2 separate regions of the Homo sapiens genome follow, and region 1 is linked to region 2. Evidence: fine-mapped expression QTL. A gene starts in region 2. The other region holds a variant in brackets. All regions are shown on one strand. Distances are from middle to middle.

The links.
Region 1: its variant is fine-mapped to the expression of HEXIM2-AS2 in whole blood (TOPMed, PIP above 0.99).

What each region holds. Positions count from the first base shown.
Region 1 is chr17:45,200,700-45,203,491 of GRCh38, reverse strand. The region is part of intron 2 of FMNL1-DT (FMNL1 divergent transcript); the gene reads left to right. Among named protein-coding and RNA genes, the nearest start is that of FMNL1-DT, 20 kb to the left of the region's middle. RefSeq lists a silencer at 745-929. The variant G/C (reference allele first, on the strand shown) is at 1,411.
Region 2 is chr17:45,169,906-45,172,697 of GRCh38, reverse strand. HEXIM2-AS2 (HEXIM2 antisense RNA 2) reads left to right here and starts at 1,213. Exons shown (of 2, transcript NR_135646.1): 1 at 1,213-1,734; 2 at 2,368-2,792. HEXIM2 (HEXIM P-TEFb complex subunit 2) reads right to left here. Exons shown (of 4, transcript NM_001303441.2): 4 at 2,663-2,792. RefSeq lists enhancers at 1-404, 982-1,276, 1,363-2,321 and a silencer at 522-816.

The sequences.
Region 1 (2,792 bases), 31 kb before region 2:
CAGCCTGACCAACATGGAGAAACCCCATCTCTACTAAAAATACAAAATTAGCTGGGCGTGGTGGCACATGCCTGTAATCCCAGCTACTCGGGAGGTTGAGGCAGGAGAATCACTTGAACCCGGGAGGCAGAGGTTGCTGTGAACTGAGATTGTATCATTGCACTCTAGCCTGGGCAACAAGAGCGAAACTCTGTCTCAAAAAAAAAAAAAAAAAGAGAAACAAAATCATGGCCTTTGCAGCAACCTGGATAGAATTGGAGACCATTATTCTAAGTGAAGTAACTCAGGAATGGAAAATCAAACATATGTTCTCACGTATAAGAGAACACAAAGGCATAAGAATGAACAATGGACTTTGGGGACTCTAGGGGAAGATTGGGAGCGGGGGCGAGGGATAAAAGACTACACACTGGGTACAGTGTACAAGCTTGGGTGGTGGATGCACCAAAATCTCAGAAATCACCACTGAAGAACTTATCCATGTAACCAAACACCACCTGCTCCCCAAAAGCCTACTGAAATAATTTATAAAAGGAACGGGCTGGGCGCAGTGGCTCACGCCTGTAATCCCAGCACTTTGGGAGGCCGAGGTGGGTGGATCAACTGAGGTCAGGAGTTTGAGATGAGCCTGGCCAACATGGTGAAACCTCGTCTCTACTAAAAATACAAAAATTAGCTGGGCGTGGTGGCAGGTGCCTGTAATCCCAGCTACTTGGGAGGCTGAGGCAGGGGAATCACTTGAACCCAGGAGGCAGAGGTTGCAGTGAGCCGAGATTGTGCCACTGCACTCCAGCCTGGGTGACACAGTGAGACTCCATCTAAAAAAACAAAAACAAAAACAAAACAAAACAGGCCAGGCACCGTGGCTCACACCTGTAATCCCAGCACTTTGGGAGGCCAAGGCGGGAGGATCACGAGGTCAGGAGATCGAGACCATTCTGGCTAACATGGTGAAACCCTGTCTATACTAAAAATACAAAAACAAAATTAGCCGGGCGTGGTGGCGGGTACCTGTAGTCCCAGCTACTCGGGAGGCTGAGGCGGGAGAATGGCGTGAACCCAGGAGGCGGAGCTTGCAGTGAGCCGAGATTGTGCCACTGCACTCCAGCCTGGGTGACAGAGCGAGAGTCCGTCTCAAAAAATAAAAAAAAAAGAAAAAGAAAAAACAGGAAACAATAACTGGGGGGAAAAAAGAAAAAGAAAATGGCAGAGCCGAGACAATAACCCAGAAATTGGGACCCAGCTTTCTTCACTGTTTCCCCTGTACCAGGGACAGCCAGTTTCCAAAGCTCTCCCTCCCAACAGCCAGCCAACATGTAGGTCCCTGTGATGAAAGCCAAGAGCAAGGCCAAGCCTTAGGCAAGCCCTGAACCTCTTTGCTCATTATTGCATAACTTTTTTTTTTTTTTC[G/C]AGACAGAGTCTCATTGTGTCACCCAGGCTGGAATGCAATGACCCAATCTCGGCTCACTGCAACCTCCGCCTCCCAGGTTCAAATGATTCTCCTACCTCAGTCTCCCAAGTAGCTGGAATTACAGGCATGCGCCACCACACCGAGCTAATTTTTGTATTTTTAGTAGAGACTGGGTTTTGCCATGTTGACCAGGCTGGTCTTGAACTCCTGACCTCAAGTAATCCTCCCGCCTCAGCCTCCCAAAGTGCTGGGATTATAGGCATGAGCCACTGCGCCTGGCCATTATTCCATAAATATTGATGGAGGGCCAACTGCATGCCCAGTGCCGAGGGATAGAGAAGAATTAGACCCCAACCTGCCTAAAAAGAGCTCACGGCCTGGGAAAGGAGTATGAGGGGAGGTCTGTTTGCCCTAGGGGCTGCTGAGGAAGAAACACTAAGCCCAGATCCATTCCTGACATAATTCTGCCTGGACATCCACTGAGTCAGGGTCAGAGACTCAGGGCTGCCCTCCTGGGTTGTTGAAGGAGAGGCAAAGTTGAAACCACTAGAAGGTGGGGCTCCTCCAGGGGAAAGACCAATTCCAGGCACCCCATCTGAGGACAAAAGCTGAGAGAACATCTTCACTGGGGTGTGGGGAGTATACAAGAAATACCAGGACCAGGCCGGGTGTGGTGGCTCATGCCTGTAATCCCAGCACTTTGGGAGGCCAAGGCGGCTAGATCAGCTGAGGTCAGGAGTTCTGGAGACCAGCCTGGCCAACATGGTGAAACTCTGTCTCTACTAAAAATACAATAATAAGCTGGGCGTGGTGGTGGGCGCCTGTAATCCCAGCTACCTGGGAGGCTCAGGCAAGAGGATCACTTGAATCCGGGAGGCGGAGGTCACGGTGAGCCGAGATCATGCCACTGCACTCCAGCCTGGGCAATAGAGTGAGACTCAGTCTCAAAAAAAAAAAAAAAAAAGAAAGAAAAGAAAAGAAAAAAAGACCAGGACCTGCAGAATTTTCCTGACAAGCCACCACCTGCAAAGCTGGCTCCACAGTGGATCCACCTCTGTACCTCCCAGAGCAGCCGGCATTCTGTCATTTTTGTTGAAGGAAATGGGCAGAGACTGGGACAGCCAAGCGCGGCCTTCTGTGGTTTTAGGGAGAAGGGCGGGTGAGCCAGTCCGTTGCCCTGAGAAGAGGTCAAGAGGATGAAGACTATGAAAGCGACTGAGTTGGGCAATTAGGGGTCCCTAGTGGCCTTCAAAAAGAATGCTTTCAACAGCAGCTGCTGAAATTTCAAGGGCAAGTTCGGTAGCGGGAGGGGAAGAGGGAGAGAGAGAATGCAGAGCCTAAGCCAGCCATCAGCAGAGTGAAGACACACGCATAATTCATG
Region 2 (2,792 bases):
ACATGCTCAGTGTGCCCATGAATTGGGTTGGTTGGGGGAGGGCACTGACTGGCACCCCCACTTAAAGGGCCAGTGCCACACTTGCCTGTTCCCAACAAGGGCAATGGGACCTGGCCACCTTTCCCCCCAATACCGTTACTTCCCTTTGGACCCCCTCCCCCCACTCCCTGGCAGCTTCTTCCTGCCCCAGCCCACCAATCTCTGCCTACCCCTCTCCCTCATACTCTGACCCTATTGCAGGCAGGGTCTGTCCACTGGGCACAGGAGTTTCCACCTGGGGTCGGGCAGTTCCTGCCGGGGAAGAAAGAGGGATCCTAAGACAGGCTGGGCAGGGGTGGTGGGAGGCTTCAACAGTCACTCCCATGAAACATATGTTCTCTGCGCTTCCCTTCCCCGGCCCAGTTGACCAAGAGGGTCCCAGAAAGCACAGGGCGTGAGGGCAGCTGTGGAAAGGCCCAGGGAGGCTGTGTCCAAGCCCAACTTCCCCAGCTAGGGCGTGTGATGTGGGGGTGGGGGTGTCTTGTAAACTGGAGCTTCCACCATTGCAGTAGGCGGAGTGGAGGCCCAGGCTTCAAGACCAAGCAGCAGGTGTGGGAACAACTGGAAGCAGCGAAGGGGGCGGGGCACCGAGGGACCCAGGCCTGGCTCCCACCCACAGCTGAGCCGGTTCTCTCCAGTGCTAAGCCCCAGCTCTGGCCCCAGGACGATCTCCTCCCTGCACACCCCTTACCCAGGAATCAGGGAGCCAGACAGGGGGAGGGGCAGACAGGGACCCTTTTCACGGACCCCTCCCATTTGGGTTCAGGCCCTCCCACACTCCCGGCTAGCATCCTCTCCTTTGTTCTCTTCTTGCCCCACCCGCCCTCCAGCGGGGTGAGGTGGGGGTGCGGGAATTAACCCACCGAGGTGCTGCCCTATTTGCGCCCTTCAGCCTTTTACGTGTAAGGGGGATGTTGGAGGAGCAGCTGGCAGCTTCCCTGCCTCCAGGCTCCTCAGCTTCTGGGCCAAGAAAGGCCAAACTCTTCACCTGCCCCTCCCTGGCATAACCAGCCCACAATGAGCACCCAGCACCCTCACCCACACCCCTCCCCCGACACTCCAGCAGCCCTCTGGAATCTTCTCTCACCTCCTAGACACACACACACAGAGGCACCTCCGGGTAAACAACCTTTGTCCACCTTTGTCCCAGGCCTCCTCTCTCCCTCGGGCTCCATGCTGAGGAATGCAGCTGGGAGGCTGCCAGCAAATGCCAAGGGGCCTCTGGGTCCCAGGCTAGCACCCCACAGCACCCCACAGGGGCAGGCAGGCCTCCAGAGGCTCTCCTGGAATCCAAAAAGCCACTTCCTCGCTAAGCCTCCGGTTTCCCGTCTGCAAAGTGGCGATGATCATTCCTGCTGCCCTTCCTGACTGAGCTGTCTGAGGACCCAGGGTTCCAGGGGCAGGTCTCCCAGGATGAGATTTTGCTTTCTCTTGAAACCCATGCGTTCCTAGAATCTGTTCTGTGTTTCATTGTAGGAGGCTCTGGCCAGGCCTGGGTGTGGCAGGATAGAAATGAAAGTTGTCCTGGCAACACACAAGATTTCATCAACATTTCCATCCCCAGCAGCTCCTGGGCCAAGCCTCATCTTGCCCAGTGTGGCCTGTCAAGATGACGGCCTGGAAGAGAAGCCAGACTGGGCAGCCAGGCCTCTGCCCCTCCCCTTGCCTGGTGGCACAGCCAGCACTGGCTCACTGGTGAGTTGACTAATTTCCTCCGCCACCATTAGTTGTCCATGTTCATTGCTGCCTGACACCCAACACCAGTCTGCAAGGGCACCAGGAGGGGATGGAAGAGACAGGGTGTCTGGGGAAGGGTGGGTCTGAGTGCGAGGGGGTGGGTGAGCTTGTCTCAGAGCCTGACGCTGGCTGGTGGTATCTGCGTTACCCAGGCTGACCCAGCTCTCTCTGATGCAGACAGGCGAGGGCCTCACACACTTCAGAGAATTCACACCCACATGATGAGGCTGAGAGGAGCAGGACGCACAGACACATGGCAGGCACCAGGAGAGCCAGGCTGCTCTGCTCTGCTGGCGATCCATGTGCTGTCCCCCTCTGTCTCTTGACTTTATTTTCCATCAGGAGAGCGCCTCCCTTATTACCCTTGGGAGGTAAGGGACAAACACAAACACATGATGACTAACCTCAGGCCCAACCCCCTGCAGAGAGGGGTCAGGGTTGGGGGCTGTCAAGAACAAGGAGGCACAAGGCACCCAGAACCCGTCTAGTCCAGCCTTTAAACTGTGGGGAGAATACAGGGAGCTCAGGAGCAAACTCTGAAGGAACCCCTGGGCCTGGGTCTTCTCCGAAAACCCCCGTTCTCTCCTCCAGGGAAAGCTCACAACTCCTCACAGCGATCTGGTATCTTGAGCGTCAGTTTCTGGCCGAAACTGGGGGCTCCTGACTGAACTCCCTCCCACCTAGAAAACCTTCTGTGCAGTCTGATTGCTCCAACACCCACAGAGCAGGATTCAGGTATCCCGGAGACCTTGGGAGGTCCCCATCCAGAGGTCTGCTGTCCTGCCAGGCTTGGGGCAGCAGGGACTGGGACCCCACTCAGACCTCTCTGGGGCAAATGTTTTGGTTCTCACAACAGCCCTAGTGAAATCAATCCTAGATACTCCCATTTGGTCCCACCAAGGCCATTTAATTTCTCTGTAAAGGGTAAGATGACACAAAAGAGCCAACTATGGAAACGGTGAGGTGGGAGTCTGAACCGATTTAGCTGTTCTCAGGGCGCACAGGGTGTTGACGGT